Linked DNA regions of Homo sapiens: region 2 is linked to region 1. Evidence: fine-mapped expression QTL. Tissue or cell type: whole blood. Region 1 holds a variant in brackets; the other region holds the start of a gene. All regions are shown on one strand. Distances are from middle to middle.

What was found. PIP is the estimated chance that this variant, and not a neighbour inherited with it, causes the effect.
Region 2: CACNA1I starts here. The variant in region 1 is fine-mapped to the expression of CACNA1I in whole blood (TOPMed, PIP 0.96).

The regions. Positions count from the first base shown.
Region 1 is chr22:39,672,568-39,680,666 of GRCh38, forward strand. CACNA1I (calcium voltage-gated channel subunit alpha1 I) reads left to right here. Exons shown (of 37, transcript NM_021096.4): 28 at 382-515; 29 at 1,396-1,466; 30 at 4,774-4,852; 31 at 5,420-5,541; 32 at 6,540-6,878; 33 at 7,155-7,301. Among named protein-coding and RNA genes, the nearest start is that of CACNA1I, 110 kb to the left of the region's middle. The variant T/C (reference allele first, on the strand shown) is at 3,953.
Region 2 is chr22:39,566,446-39,574,534 of GRCh38, forward strand. It overlaps CACNA1I (calcium voltage-gated channel subunit alpha1 I), which reads left to right and starts at 4,308. Exons shown (of 37, transcript NM_021096.4): 1 at 4,308-4,543. The coding sequence starts at 4,308.

The sequences.
Region 1 (8,099 bases):
GTCTGCCTCATGCTAATACTCCTTTTTGAAGGGAATAGTGAGGCTCAAAGAAGTTGATGGACTAGCCTAAGGCCAGACAGAGAGAGCAGCCAGCTCAAGATTAGACTTGGAAGTCATAGTCCATGCCTCCTCTCCTGCAGGAGGCCAGAGATATTTATTTAGCCTGATCAGCCCCTTGCTTGACGGAGTGATGGCTATGGGGAGCAGAGAGGGGCCTGGACCCAGTGGCGTTAGGAGGGGCTAGTAAGGGAGGGCAGCCACACAGCCTAATGGGCCACAATAGAAGGGTCAGGACCTGGGAGGCTCCCCCCACTAAGGTGTGTCTGAACCAGAGGGATCCTCCTCATGCCCACTCCTGCCCTCCCATGCACGGCTGAGCAGATGGAACCAGCTGGACCTGGCCATTGTGCTACTGTCAGTCATGGGCATCACCCTGGAGGAGATCGAGATCAATGCGGCCCTGCCCATCAATCCCACCATCATCCGCATCATGAGGGTTCTGCGCATTGCCCGAGGTGAGGGGCAAGGGGTGGGACAGGGAACGGGGACAAGCAGGGGCGGGATGAGACTCCTCATTGCCTGATGAGAACACACAGGAGTGGGGTGGGGAGGGGTGGGGGCAGGAGTTTGCAGGCATGGTGGGCTCCTTGCTGAACAGGGGTGAGAAGGAGCTGGGAGGCACACAGCCAACACACACGCATGCACCCTCTGTGTGCACACACCTCCCCCAACACACAGGCAACTTTGCATAGCACACATGGACACACACTCCCACTTCCTTATGACGCCATGACCCATGGGGTCCAGTCTCAGAGTGTGATGCAAGGAACCCAGTCCAACTGGGAAGATGTGAAACACCTCCAGTTCCTCGCTGGCATTTCTCAAACACAGTGACTGGGACGCACGGTCTTCAGAGATCCTTCTCCCTCCCCTCAAGGTAGTTCGTACACTTCTTTTAAAAGCCTCCTGCCTCAGGGCGAGCCCAGGTGCCTCTTGCTCTTCTGCCTGCCAGAAACTCAGCGAGTGATGCCAGAGTCCTCTTTATCGAGAGGGGAAGAGAAGAGATGTGGCCACTCACGCTGGTCCTTTGTGCCCGTGACAGTTCATGGCCCACCCATTCACACACTTCATAGACCTCAGTTTCCATGAGTATGCCCCGTCCTCGGGGGCTTTTCTACAGTGACACCCACGCCTTGTGTCCACATGTTTTTGTGCATGCCCCACTCACCCTGTGGCTGCACCCACATTCTTGTAATGTGGTATCTGAGAGCCAGACTCTGCTTGCACGTGCCTTCATGTTCTCTTCTCCCAAGTTTACACACGTGCACACATGCGTGCACACACACGTCCCCACCGGCCTGGGGCTGAGTGGGCAGGGCTGGGTCTCGCCCGCAGTGCTGAAGCTGTTGAAGATGGCCACAGGAATGCGGGCCCTGCTGGACACGGTGGTGCAAGCTTTGCCCCAGGTAAGAGCCACTCTTTCTGGCAGCCCTCCTAGGGGTCATTGGTGTCAGGCTGGGCCCTGGGGCATGAAGGCCCTGATTTCCCTTCTCCTCACATCTGCCAGAGCCAGGGCAGATGCTGTCTCTGGGGATGCATTTTGAGCCAGGGGCTGAGAGGCAGGAAGGGTCCCTTTATGCCTCTTTCTTCCAGTTTCACCATGTGGTTGCCAGTGCCACTCTGTGTCCAGCCCTGTGCACGCACTGAGGGTCCACATTGTGCCCTTGGTTGCCCCCAGGCTGGTGGAGGGAGATGGATACTTCAGGGAGATGTGGGGAGGGACCTCCAGCATGCTCCAGAGAGAGAGAAGAGTGCCAGACACTCCCTGGGGAGATCAGGGAAGGCAGCCTAGGAAAGGGGACCTTTGAGCTTGACTTCCAAGGGTGGCTTGGCAGAAGGAGGTGGCAGTGTGGATGGAGAAGTTCCGAGATGGCATTCCAGGAGGGGCAGCATGAGACCCTGACCCAGGTGGGGATCTGAGAAGTTAGGGAAGTTGCTCTACCCGCACCCTGCGGTTAGTGAAAGGGGAGATGTGATCAGGGCCACAGAGGGCATCTTTTTCATCCTCCCGAGAATTCTGCAATCCCAGTCCTTCCCTCCCCCGCTGTCTTGACTGCTTGAGGCTCCCCTTCCCCCTCCCCTCAGGGTGGCCTCTGCTCTCAGCTGAGCCTCAGGCACATTTATTCATTATGACTCAACGAGTCATCAGGAAGTTTAGGTGCCTTAAAATACAAGGCACAGATACTGCACATTAAAAATGAGGATACAAGATTAATGGCCCAGGGAAGGTGGAAGCAGAGCTAATTCTTTCGGGGACCGGGGCTAAGGACATGGGTGAGTTCTGTTCCTGAATTTGGTGTGAGCTTCCCAGCAGCCTTGGTATAAAGGGAAAGTGGCATGGTCTGGATGGAAAGCAAGGGCATTCATTCAGAGACGTGGTTTTTCCTAACACTAAACCCCTTCAGGGGACTTTGTCCCATGGGAGATGGGGGTGATGCTGGGCTGCAGGCTGTGCCGACAGGAAGTAGATTGGAGCCCCGGCTTGGGCCATAATGCTTGAGAGCAAAGCCTGGGCCCTGGGCATGCGACTTAGCTTTTCGTGCCTCAGTTTCCTTGCCTGTGAAATGAGGATGGTGGTGAAGCATCGCTCCCTCAAGCGCTTATTTCAAAGGGCGGCGGTGAGGTGTCAGATGGTTAAAGCTTATGAAGCACTTAAGAGGTCTGGTTCATGAGAAGTGCCATTTAAGAGGCTGCTAGGGGTGGGGATGGTGAGTGTGTGGCTCGGCCTCCCTGGCCTCCTTGCTCCCTCTCCCCTTCCCCATGCTCTGACCCCTGGGCGGTTCTATCATGACTCCCAAATCCAGTGTGGAGCTGGCATGGGGCACGGCACATGGAGATGTTCAGGACATCCCAGCCTCCAGCAGGAGACCCAAGGTAGTCATTACAAGTGCATTAGCACTTGAGAAGAAGCACGTGCCAAGTGCCACTGGCCGTGAAATGGTGCTTACCCCTCAAAATCCATTTGCTGTTGCTCATGTTGTTGTATGGACATTGGCCATTTCCTCGATTCTACGTAAAGTGCTAGGAAAATGAAACTTCAGCCTCTTCCCACCAGTCTCTGCCCCAAGAAGAGGGAGGAGGCATCAGAGAAGGCTTCTCAGGGGAGGTGACCCATGGACTGGGCTTTGAGGGGTGGGGAGGAGGCATTTTACAGGCAAAGATAGAGGGTCCTCCCTGCAGAGGGAAAATAATATGCCAAGGCACTGTGGGGCTGTTTTCTGTGTGGCTGGAGTGTGTGGGATTGGAAGATCAGGCTGGGAGGGGGGTCCCTGGGGGCCAGGTCACAGCACACCTTCAGTGCTAGGGCAGCAGAATTGGGCTTTATCTTGCAGGCAGCAGGTGCCACAGGAGGGTTCTAGACAAGGAAGGCTGCAGCCGAGCTGCCTTTGAGAAGGTGGCTCTGCTGGCTGGGAGGAGAATGGATTGGAGGGAGAGGCTGGAGGCAGGGAAGCTGGTGAGGAGGCTGCTGCAACCCTGCCGGCTCTGAGATGCTGACAGCAGGGAGGGGACAGATAGAAAAGCTGACGGCAATCCTGGTTAAGAGATGCTGCCCCCGCCGGCCTGTGCAGGGCACAAAGCTGAATTCCTAGAGCCGCGACCACGCCAGATCCTTCTCAGCGGTCAGGGCCTTACAGTTGGCCTCACGGGTGCTCAGTAAGTGCTTGTTTTATTAATGAAGGGAACATCATTTAATTAGTCAGACACTAGCAGTGTAGAACGGCTGGCCAGGAAACCCTGCTCTGGAGTGGAGCGGAGAAACTCGAGGAGTGGTGATTAATGGGGTTTACTTTTCAGCAGTTAACGTGAACGTTTTCTGAGGGTTCTAAGGCCTTCTGAGGGTTCTAAGAGATATTTCATTTCTAGGGCAAGAATGTGTTTTAGCCTTATCTTA[T/C]CCATAGCATGAGTTAAAGGTGGTCTCCAATGCATGGATAGATTTGAACTAGGTTTGGAATCTGGGACGCTTTCTCCCACAGGAGCTGTGGGATGGGGGTGGCTGGGTTTGCAGAGGCTTCTGGGGCCCACGGGCCTGCGTGATTCCTGCCTTCCCTCCTCTCTATGGCCAGGCCTCATGCTGGCCCAAGGAGGCAAATCTGACCTCATGCAGCTGTGTTCCTGCTCTTGAAGATTTCCCAGACCAGCAGATGACAGTGACAGGGATAAGTGCATTTCGGTGGTTTCGTAGAGGAGCTAGTGTTAGAGCTGAGACCTCCTGCCTTCTCCCTTCCCTTCGTTCATCCATCCATTCAACCTTGGTAGCCACTCAAGGCGTGTAGCATAGATTGTGTGCATGGACCCTGGGGCCAGCCTGCTGGGTTTGGACCCTTGTCCTACCAGTTACTAGCTGTGCGACTCTGGACAAGTGATGTCACCTCTCAGTCTGTCTCCTTCTTCTTCTGAAGAATGGGGATAAAAGATAGTTCGTGGATTATTGTGAGGAGGAAGTGAGCTCATGAACCTTAAGTGCTGGAAATGGGACAGCTTGTGGTAAAGGTGGCACAAGTGTTTTCTTGTTATTCTGAGCCCTGTGCTGGACCCAGCCTGCCCTCCAGGTCCTGTAGGGGTGGCAGACGTGGACACACAGCCTGGGGGAATGTTACAGCTGCTCTGACCCACAGGCTGCCCAACCCCACTGCCCCAGCCTCCACCCTTCCCAGGCCTGGTGCGCCCCCACCCGCTCCCCAGCCCCACCCGGCCTCACCTGTCCTCCCGCAGGTGGGCAACCTGGGCCTCCTCTTCATGCTGCTCTTCTTCATCTATGCTGCTCTCGGGGTGGAGCTCTTTGGGAAGCTGGGTGAGTGACTCCCAGAGCAGGCCCGTGGTGGGGGTGCAGCAGGGCTGCAGGAGGAACTGGGGGGGCGGGGGAGGCCTGAGACCCCTGAGCCCGTCACATCAGGGTCTTTGTATTGGGGAGATGCCTACAGCAGGGCCCTCAGCTGTCTGGTCTCCCAGGAAAACTGCCCTCCCTACCCCGGTGTTGGTGCCTGTCCTGAGCCAGCGCCACCCCAGCAAGTGGAGAGGCCAGGGCAGGGGAAAGAGCAACAGAGCGCTCGCTGAGCTCCGCCCTGCACCGGGATGGCTCCAGAAAGCAGGGTTCCCCGAGGGGCTGGCCCTCACCCCATTTCACCCTCTTTCTCAGAAACCCATTCTTCGGCGGGGAGCAGAGCCAGACTCACCCAAACCTGAGCCCCAGCTCATGTGCCATCTCCCCGAGCCTCAGTTTATCTGTGGGCTGGGCACAGTCTGCAGGCCCCTCCTAGGGTGTGATGAGGGTTCTGAGGCGAGGCGGGAGGCACCAGGTCAGGGTGAGCCCCGCAGGCACTCCGCCATCGGGCAGGGCTGACCTCCTCCCCGCTTCCAGTCTGCAACGACGAGAACCCGTGCGAGGGCATGAGCCGGCATGCCACCTTCGAGAACTTCGGCATGGCCTTCCTCACACTCTTCCAGGTCTCCACGGGTGACAACTGGAACGGGATCATGAAGGTACTCCTGGGCGGGCTGGGGTGGAGAAATCAGCCAGGTGCTGGGACAGTGAGGATGCTGGTCCTGCTGCTCAGGGCTCTGCCCACCCAGGGCCCCACCACACATGGGAGGGGCATGCAGGGCACGGAGGAGTGGAGGGGCCTGCCCAGGACCAGCACAGTGGGGAGAGCTGAGCCAGAACAGGCCCCCTGTCTACACTGCCTCATCCCCCAGTGTTGCCTGGGATCAGGGCTCAGATTCTAGGGTAGACAACTCCACCCAGTTCCGGAGGGGACCTGGGGCCCAGGCAGGCCTGAAGGCCAGGGCCAGGCCCCCTAGTGATTTCCACGCTGACCAGGTCACCCGGCAGAGGCTCCCTGGCCTGGGCTGCAACCCGGGCTGGGCTGGGAAGGGCAGGGAGGGGCTCCCAGAGGACAGGGGTAAGGCCTCGGTTCCGGGGCCCTAGGGTGGAGAGGGCAGAGGTAGGCCTGTTCTGCCTCCCACCCCCACCCTGCAGAGCCCCCAGTGCCCCCAGCAAGGGGGCAGGAAGCCAGGGTGCTGGGAGAGGCGGCCAATCTCCTCAGCCCAGGGCGGGAAGGTGATGGAGTCTTCTTGGGCTTTGTGGTTGGGGGTTGAGCTGAAAAACCAGAAAGGAAGGACAGGGAGGCCCTGGTCACGAATGCACCCTACTCCCCAGGGGCCCCTGAAGGAAGCCCCAGATGCCCCTTCTCAGGCCTGACTGTCCCGGGGAAGCAGGCCAGCTGTGGGGAGGGTGACATGGGCAGGAGCAAGAGAGGAGGAGAGGGCGCTGGGCCATCCGTCTGTCCATGCGGGGACTTAGCTGAAGCTGAGGCAGGCAGATGCCGCAACAAGGCAGAGTGGGGCAGGGCAGCCCGGGGCCATCTCGGGGGTTGAATCTCGGTCTTGCTGCCTCCGAGCGTGGCCCTGGGCTGGCCTCTGCCTCCAGCAGCCTCTGGGATGTCTCCGTCCTCATCCTCACCGCCCTCCCTGCCACGCAGGACACGCTGCGGGACTGCACCCACGACGAGCGCAGCTGCCTGAGCAGCCTGCAGTTTGTGTCGCCGCTGTACTTCGTGAGCTTCGTGCTCACCGCGCAGTTCGTGCTCATCAACGTGGTGGTGGCTGTGCTCATGAAGCACCTGGACGACAGCAACAAGGAGGCGCAGGAGGACGCCGAGATGGATGCCGAGCTCGAGCTGGAGATGGCCCATGGCCTGGGCCCTGGCCCGAGGCTGCCTACCGGCTCCCCGGGCGCCCCTGGCCGAGGGCCGGGAGGGGCGGGCGGCGGGGGCGACACCGAGGGCGGCTTGTGCCGGCGCTGCTACTCGCCTGCCCAGGTGGGCAGGGGCTGGAGAGGTGTGAGGGTCGCCAGAGGGGGGGCACCGCAGGGCCAGATGGGCAGCAGGGCCAGGGAGGCCTTGCACAGAGACCTCTGTCTTTCTGGGCCCCACCCTGCTCAGCTCCATAGAAGGGGTGACCCTGTGATGAGGGGGTCGGTCCCAGGCCATGGGCGCAGAGAACCAACCGGGAGGGCAGCTGTGTCCTGCCCACCCCACAGCCCCGGGACCCGGCTGATAATCCCGCCTGTCCCCACCCCGTCCCCGTCCGCCTAGGAGAACCTGTGGCTGGACAGCGTCTCTTTAATCATCAAGGACTCCTTGGAGGGGGAGCTGACCATCATCGACAACCTGTCGGGCTCCATCTTCCACCACTACTCCTCGCCTGCCGGCTGCAAGAAGTGTCACCACGACAAGCAAGAGGTAATGGCAGCCCGGGAGGCCTGGCCCCTTGTGGCAGGGGCAGCACGAAACCTGGTGGGGGGCCTGTCCGAGGGCAGAGCCTGGCTCTGGGCTGTAGAGACCAGGCTGGGTCAACGTGGGCACACGTAGCTTCCATGGCTGGGGCAGATTGGCTCCCTGAGTCAGGGCCAGGTGTGGGCCTGTGGTGTGGTGGCCACAGCTGCCGACCCCAGCACCATGCCGCACACAGTAGGTGCTTGGGTAGGGCAGCTGCCCCACCTTGTGTGCTGCAGGTGCCAGGCAGGGAGCCTGTGTGTCACTTGCAGGACAGCTTGCCCTTTCTGTGACATGAGGGGTCATCTGCCCGCTCTTCCCCCAAGGCATCATCCTGGCACTCAACCTCCTCCAGGTGCCCTGTCCTGGCCTCCACCTCAGGGCTTAGGCCCACCCAGCTCAGGGGTTCCCATGGGCCTGCCTCCAGAGCAGGCGCAGTTAGCCCCCTCCCCTCTCCCCAGCAGTGTGGGCCCCTGAGCTCTCCCTGGGGTGTTCCAGCCCCCAGAGTGGCCCCAGCCTCAGGTGGCTGCAGGGCAGGTCCCCAGGAACCATCAGCAGGAGCTGGAGGACTGGGCTGCCCCACATCCCTGCCCTGTGGTGGCTGCAGATTCTCCGGTGTCTCTGGGCCCCGCAGTGTCCCCTGCCTGTGACACGCTGTGCAGGTCATCCACATGGGGCCATAGATGAGTCAAGTCCAGCCCAGTCTTGACGGGCACTTGGTCTGGGGGCAAGCAGACAGCTGTGGAGTTCACAGCCCACGGCAAC
Region 2 (8,089 bases), 110 kb before region 1:
TCTGCCTCCTGGGTTCAAGGGATTCTTCTGTCTCAGCCTCCTGAGTAGCTGTGACTACAGGTGTGCGCCATCATGCCTGGCTTATTTTTGTGTTTTTAGTAGAGATGGGGTTTCACCATGTTGGCCAGGCTGGTCTCCAACTCCTGACCTCAGATGATCTACTCGCATCGGCCTCCCAAAATGCTGGGATTACAGGCGTGAGATACCACACCTGGCAGCCCATCATGTTGCTTCTTAACAAGAGCCTGCTGAAGCAGGCTGGAGGAGGGCTGAGCTTTACAGAGAAAAACTGAGGCTCTAAGAAGCTGACGGAGTCAGGAATGGGGGTCTGTGTTCCAGACACAGCAGGCTTCTGCTCCTATCCCTGCTCTTGGAGGCCAGCCTAATTGCCACACTGCTGCTTGGTGGGCTACTCAGGGGAAGGAGCATCAGGGTTAGGTCCTGGGAGCACCTAGAAGAAGGGGACTCAGGGATGTGGAGGCAGCTCAGACTCTGGCACCTGATGGACCTGAGTTTGAATCCACCAATGCTGTCACCTAAAGCAAGTCCTTTAGTCTCTGTGACTGCGGACAGATTGGAGCCCAGGGAGGCCCAGCTGCCAGTCCCCTCAGGGCTTCCAGCCATGGGCACACAGGCACCTGCGATAGGAGCTAGGCCACAGACACAGGAAAGAGAGATATCTGGACTGGACTTGGGGGCTTTGGGAGTGGGGAGTGGGTCAGGGAGTAGTGGCCTGGGAAGCTGCTAAGGAACAGGTCAGAGGGAGATGGTCTGGGTGGTCACTGGGAACAGGTCAGAGGGTGGAGGCTGGGTGGTCACTGGAAGCATGTCCGAGGGTGGAGGCTGGGTGGTCACTGGAACAGGTCAGAGGGTGGAGGCTGGGTGGCCGCTGGGAGCAGGTCAGAGGGTGGAGGCTGGGTGGACACTGGGGAGAGAGTTGAGGGTGGTGGCCTTAGGGGTGTGGTTTCTGGGAGCACCACAGTGAGGGGAGAGGTGTGAGCACAGAGGGCAGCACAGTGTGGCGGCATTAAACAAGCCAAGAGAGGCAACAAGCAAGTCAGTGCAAGCGACGTAGCCCAGAGGCAGGAAGTGGGTAGTTTTGTGCAGTCCCGGAGGCCGGGGGAGCTCTTTCCACCTGTGTGGTTTCAGGAAGGACTTCGGTAATGCTGGGGCGAGGGTTGCAGGTGGGCCACTGCAGTTGCTGCGAGACCAGGTGCTTTACCTCGAGAATAAATCTCAATCCACCGCCTTCTCCCTGTCTTCACCAGCAGCCAAGGGCAGGCCAGCCCAGCTCCTCCCAGCCCTTCCTGCTCCACCCCTTCCCCTTCATCCACTCTCCCTTCAGCCCCTGGAGAGATGGCTTAGAAACAGACCAGAGCACACCACTCCCCTGCCTAAAACCCACCTGTGGCTTCTACTGAACTTGGGATAAAACCCACGCTCCTCTGTGTTCTCCCCCAGGGCCCTGCTGAACTCTTTGGTTTCATCCGCCTCCCTGCCCGAGGCTCGGCCTCGCTTGTGTTCCTTAAATGCACCGAGCGGGCCCCATTCTCCTGGCCTTCGCACGTGCTCTTCCTCCTGTGCTCTTCCAGCAGATCAGTCAGGGCTGCGGCCTCCCGCGTCTTGGTTTTCACTTAAACATCTCTTCCTTTAGAGAGGGCAAGATGATTGTCTCCACTCCCACCTTTCCCCTTGTTTATTTACTTCCCAGCACTTTTTATTCACTGAGTCAACAAATATCGATTGAGCACCTAGTATGCTCCAGGCACCATTCCAGGTGCTGGGGATACAGCAGTGAGGGGATACACCTCCCTTACAGGCTTCTCTTAGGCTGGGGAGACAGACACCAAATCATGGAGATATAAAGACATAAATTATGCACCGTGTTTGATGGTGATAAGAGTTGTGGAAAAGCAGAAAGAGAGAAATTAATTGATCGGTGTGTCTCTCTCCTCTGCGGAAGTGTGGGCTGAATGGGGGCTGGTGCTGAGTCTGGCTCGTGCCCCAGCATAGCCCGAAGCCCACACAGTGCCCACACATAGTAGGTGCTCATTGGGCAAATGAATGAATCAGTAGGGCCTGGGAGAACAGGGCCTGGGCGGAAGGAGAAGGTGCCCCAGTGAGAGGGAAGAGCGGGAGCAGGGCCTAGGACCTGAGGAGGTCCAATCTGGCCAGAGCAAATGGCCAGGGGAGGGAGTGGTGGGCTCCGAGGCTGGCACGGTGGTGGGCAGAGCTGGAACCACCCTAGGGAGGGTGCGTTTCAGCCCAGGAGGTTGACACGTGGCAGGCCAAGGTGCCTGGGAGCTTATGTAAGGCCCGTGGCTGTTTTTCTGGAATCAAGAGCAAAGCCCTGAGCTCAGGAGAAAACTCCGCCTCCCTGACCAGCCAGGGGAAGTGGCAGGAGGTGCCAACCCCTGCCCGTTGCCCCCGGGAGCCAGAGAAATGTCCAAATGCATCAGCTCCGGGTGGCTTGGTCGACAGCCCAGCAGCAGCTGGGTGGGCACCAGGGACGTGGACCCCATCTCTCAATCCCACGGCTCAGACTGGCCCTGTAGGGGTTCTAGGATCCCAGGGACCCCAGTGGACAAAGTTTTAGGGACTAGTACCCTTTGGGGTGAGGTGGTGAGGGGCAGGCCCTGGGAGTGGCTGTCCGTCCCATCTTGCCATTGACTGGTTGCGGAGGCTCTCGGCCAGCGAGGGCACCATCAGTTGTCATGAAGCCCGCCTGGGGGTCTGGTGCTGGGATTCTGGCCTCTCAACACCACCTAGTGCTTCACTTGGCTGGGTGCATAGCCTTGACAACCCGCTTTGTTCTCTTGGCCTCAGTTTCTTCACCTGCCAAATGGGCATAATAGTCCTCCTGAGGTTGTTGTGAGCATCAGACAAGGCCAGGGAGTAGAAGTGCTTTGAGTTGGAGTCGGAGCCAGCAAGATGATTTGCATCACCTAGAACAAAATGAAAATGTGGGACCTCTTGATAAGCAATTAAGAATTTCATGTTGGTGACAGAAGAATTCTAAAGCAAGTTCAGGGCCCTTCTGAGCACGGGGCCCTGTGCAGCTGCCTGAGCCACAGACCCAGGAAGCGGGCTCTGACCGGAATTCTTTTTTTTTTTTTTTTTTGGTGACAGAGTCTTGCTCTGTTGCCCAGGCTGGAATGCAGTGGTGTGATCTTGGCTCACTGCAACCTCCACCTCCCGGGTTCAAGTGATTCTCATGCCTCAGCTTCCCGAGTAGCTGAGATTACAGCGTGTGCCACCACACCCAGCTAATTTTTGTATTTTTAGTACAGATGAGGTCTCACTATGTTGGCCAGGTTGGCCTCAAACTCCTGACCTCAGGTGATCCACCCACCTTGGCCTCCCAAAGTGCTGGGATTACAGGTGTGAGTCACGTGCCTGGCCTTTGACTGGAATTCTATTTCTGCTGTTACTCTGCTACATGTCTGTCCTGTCCCTTCTCTGGGCCTCGGTTTCTTCATCTGTAAGGCAAGGAGGTTAGACTCTAAGATTCCTGGGTTCTCAGCCTTGTAAGGCAGTGGCTGGGAGGTCCCTGGGTCAAGGGCTCAGCTGTAGGTCTCAGCTCAGGGGTTACTTCCTCAGGGAAGCCAACTGTGATTCCCTCCTGGCTTGCCAGCGTTCCCCCAGTCTCTGATTCTGCAGCACCCCAACATTGCCTTTGTAACCTGCATTGTCCTGGCAATAATGTCTGTCTTTACAATCACCTCTTTTTTCTTGCAAGTTTTCTTTACCTTTGATGGTGCAATAAATACATAGCTCTAGTCTTGTAAAAAAGTTAAGATCCCTTCCTTCCTTCCTTCCTTCCTTCCTTCCTTCCTTCCTTTCTTCCCTCCCTCCCTCCCTCTCTCCCTCTCTCCCTCCCTTCCGTCTTTCTTTTCTGTCTATAATTACTTAAACATTTTTTCTCTTAAATAATGAAAGATTTCAAATACAGAAAATTGCCAATAGACAAAAAAAAAAGAGTTAATATCACAATTATATTCTAAGAAGGCTTTATTCTCCCCACTATCTTCGTTTGCCAAAACTGAGGCTCAGCCAGGGTGAGCAGACTTGCCCCATGATCACCCAGCTTGGAAGCAGATTCCAAGTTGGGTGCAGCTGGGCCCTCAGCTGTTTCGTAATCCTCATGCAAGAGTGAGGGTGAGGGGCCTGTGGGGCTCAGGTGGGGCTGTCAGAGCTGCATCCGTCCACTTATTGGTGGAGAGGCAGGTTGGGGAGCATGTACCAGGCCTGTCCCCACCACGTGCCACCCTCTCTGTCTTCCCCAGGGCTCCCAGCTCAGTGTGGACATGGCTGAGAGCGCCTCCCCGCCCTCCTCATCTGCAGCAGCCCCAGCCGCTGAGCCAGGAGTCACCACGGAGCAGCCCGGACCCCGGAGCCCCCCATCCTCCCCGCCAGGCCTGGAGGAGCCTCTGGATGGAGCTGATCCTCATGTCCCACACCCAGACCTGGCGCCTATTGCCTTCTTCTGCCTGCGACAGACCACCAGCCCCCGGAACTGGTGCATCAAGATGGTGTGCAACCCATATCCTCCGCAGCCTCGGCTGATCGGGGCCCTGCAGGGGCTGAAGGGTGGGGGGCTGGATTGAGTCCTGCTGCTCACACCTTGCTCCGGCTGGGAGACCTGAGGTCTGCGGTGAGGCCACTGGGCCTTGGTGGTGGTGAGCGAGCTCAGAGGGTGGGTCTGGGGAGACCTCAAATGGATGAGGACCTGGTGTTCTGCTGATGTGAAGGTTCTGGAAGTTGCTGGTGGCTGTGGGGTCAGTCCAGTGGCTGGCTGGCTCAGAAAGTCCTTGAGTGTGGGCCCCAGACCTGTGCTGGGCTGGGAATGCAGATCAGTCAGACTCTGGAGCCACCTGATGGGCCGTGACCATACAGAGGATGGGAGCCGTGATCAGGAACTGTGGGCGTGGGCAGCGGGGCAGCCGATCCCAACACACAGGGCAGGACTCATTCTCCTTACTGTGCCTCCGAGCAGCCTCTTCCCAGGCCTCCTGCCTCCACTTGCTGCCTCCAGTGGGCTCATGTTCCCCCTGCTTAAGACTGTCATGATTTGCTATGGTCCTGGAGGTGCAGAGCAAAGTCCTAATCCAACCCATCAGGGCCTGTGTGTTCCACCCAGCCTCACTTCCCACCACTTGGCTTCCCCCCTGTGCTCTTCTGAGCCTCAGGGTCCTCTCACTGGCTCTTCCCCCTGTCTGAAAAGCTTTTCCCTTCCCCCTGGACCTGGCCAAATCCTTTGCTACATCCTTAAAATCCCAGCTTAAGCATCACCTCCTCAGGGAAGCCCTCTGGGATTCCTCCTCTGCTTCATATCTAACTGTCACATCTAACTGTGGAATTCTGAATCTAACATTTGCCTCCCCTGGGGTACTGTCAGATGACTGGGATGGGGACCCTAGCACCTGGCACAGTGCTTGGCACATCGTGGGTGCTCTGGCAGTGTTTGCTGGGTGTACATGGGCAATGCCAGAGCTGACTCCTCAATAAGGAAGAGCGTTGGTTGGGTAGAGAGGGTAGTGGGAGGCAGGAGGAGGGCATGGCAGGAGCGAAGCCTGGAGAAGGGAGGAGTTGCAGGCAGTGTTGGAGCCCTGAGGGGCAGAGAGGAGTGAGGTGAGGCTGCAGGTGTGGCGGGAGCCCTGCAGGGCCTTGGAGGCTGCATGAGGGATGGGACTGTGCTCCAAGGGCAGGATTTGAAGCAGGGTCTGGAGAGATCTGTGCTCTGGAAGGACTGTGTGGCACTGGCTTGCAGGGTGAAGTGGGGGCTGGGGACCACTGAGGAGGAGGCTTGGGGACCCAAGCCATGGTGGCCTTGTGGTTTGAGGGTCCCACCAAAAAATGCCCATATGTGGCTCGAGGTTCTGGTGCTTGTGGCCACACAGGGCAGGGTGCGGGGAGCTGGTGGGTCAGGTGCAGGCCTGAGTCCTGCCCTGGAATCCAGGGATGCCAGATGCAGGCTGGGATGTTGAGACTGGCTGCAGGACTGCCAGGCTTCCCTTCTGTAGGGGGCTGAGGTGATCGTGGGCCCTGGATCCCCCTAACTTTTGGAAACCAGCGGGTCTCTGCTGGAGTGGGATGCAGAACTGGGTGTTCCTTGCTGGGTGGGGGCTAAGAGCCTCCCTGCTCCTTCTGGGGGACGGCTCACAGCGTCTCAGGCTTGGTGAGAGGGTCTGCTCGGTAATTAGTTCACCCAGCACTCACTGACATCTGCCCTGGGACACTGAGGACAAAGAGGCAGAGCTGGTGTCTGTCCCAGGGAGTGCCCGGGGAAGAGGGAAGCAGGGACCACCCATTTGGCTAGTTTTTTTTTTTAGATGGAGTCTCGCTCTGTCACCCAGGCTGGAGTGCAGTGGCGCGATCTCGGCTCACTGCAACCTCCGCCTCCCAGGTTCAAGCAATTCTCCTGCCTCAGCCTCCCGAGTAGCTGGGACTACAGGCACCCACCGCCATGCCCTACTAATTTTTGTATTTTTAGTAGAGATGGGGTTTCACCATGTTGGTCAGGCTGGTCTCGAACTCCTGACTCGTGAACCGCCTGCCTCGGCCTCCCAAAGTGCTGGGATTACAGGTGTGAGCCACTGTGCCCAGCCTACGTGGCTAGTTTTAATACAAAGCACTGGGGAAACCTCAGGGGCTTGTGGCATGTGAACAGAGGAGTGCCAGGCCTGAGAAGGGGGCGGCCGCAGGAATTTTGGGCCTTTAGGAAGAGAAAGGCTGGTAGGAGGACCAGGGGGACAATTTCACAATGTCTCAGGGGCCTTTCCTGGGTGAGATGACAAGAGTTGATTCTGGCTCTGTCACTTGGGTGCTGTGTGACCATGAGTAAGTCACTTTGCTTCTTTGAACCTTAGGGGGTCTGGATGGGCAATACTGCTCTGGGCTGGAGGCAGGGGCATGGCTCAGAGGACTTGGCCTGGGAGTCTGACCCAGCTGCGTCTCTGATGGGCTCTGGCTGGGCTGGCTGGGGTGCTGCCCACGTGTCACGGAGAGGCCCCTAGATGGGGGTGGTCAAGTCCTGTCTGCCATGTGTGTGACCCTGGGCAGTCTCCTCTCTCTGAGCCTCAGCACCTCCACCTAAAAAGGAGACGGCAGACGAATCACCCCTTCCAGCCCTGGGAGCCCAGGGTGTTAGCCACACACGCCATGGGGGCTGCCTTGATCTCAGGCACCCTGACGCCTGACCACTGAGTGAGCCAGCCCCTGGGAACCCACCCAGTTTTCCATATTTCTGGCCTGTTGGGCAAACAGAGTCCTTGGGGCCACTGTCTCCTTGGTTTTCACCACCCCTCTCACCTCCATCCTCAGGTCATGTGGGTTGTGGCCTGGGGTTGGAGACAACAGTGGGGCTGGCCCAGGAGGGAGAGGAGTACTGGTTTCGGGAGGAGCTGGGCCTGCCTCTTGTCTGTCTTGGAGAGAGCCCTGGGTCCAAGGGGTGGGGCAGAAAGCAGCCCCCCTCCATCAGGAGGGACTTTTCAGTCCCGGGAGCTGCGCAGAGCGAGGGTTCCCCCGGCATCCCCATGGCCAGGGCTGCTGAGGCTGGACTGGGATAGAGGTGGTTCAGGTCTCGGCCTTAACTGGTGGGATACGGACTCTCTTCAGGCCAGAGATGTGGCGACTCAAAAGCACAGCAACTTTAAAGGTGTCAGCTCTGGGACACTCAGACTGAAAACTTCTGCGACAGTCTAAGGGTTCAAAGTTAAGATTTAAGGCTCAGCGACACTGAAATTCTAAGCTTCTGTCATTCAAAGGCTGCAAAATTCTGTGTTTCAAAGAGTGTGTGAGCCTAAGACTTGGTGGCTGTGATGCTGTGTGCCTACGAGTTGGAGGATTCTGGACCCGGTGGCTGCAGCCGCTGCTGGCCTGAGAGTTCATAGCTGAATTGGGTCAGGTGGGAGAGGGGCCAAGGAGGGTTCCACAAACAGAGACCCAGGAGACGTGGCTGTCCATAGGGCTGTCCCCTGGAGCAGAGACTCAGTCGTGGGGAGCTCAGGGTGGGCTTTAGGGGCTTGGGATGGGGTGCGTGTGTGGGTGGGGCAGGGGCTGAAGCCTCTAGGATTCTTTCCTGGCTGGA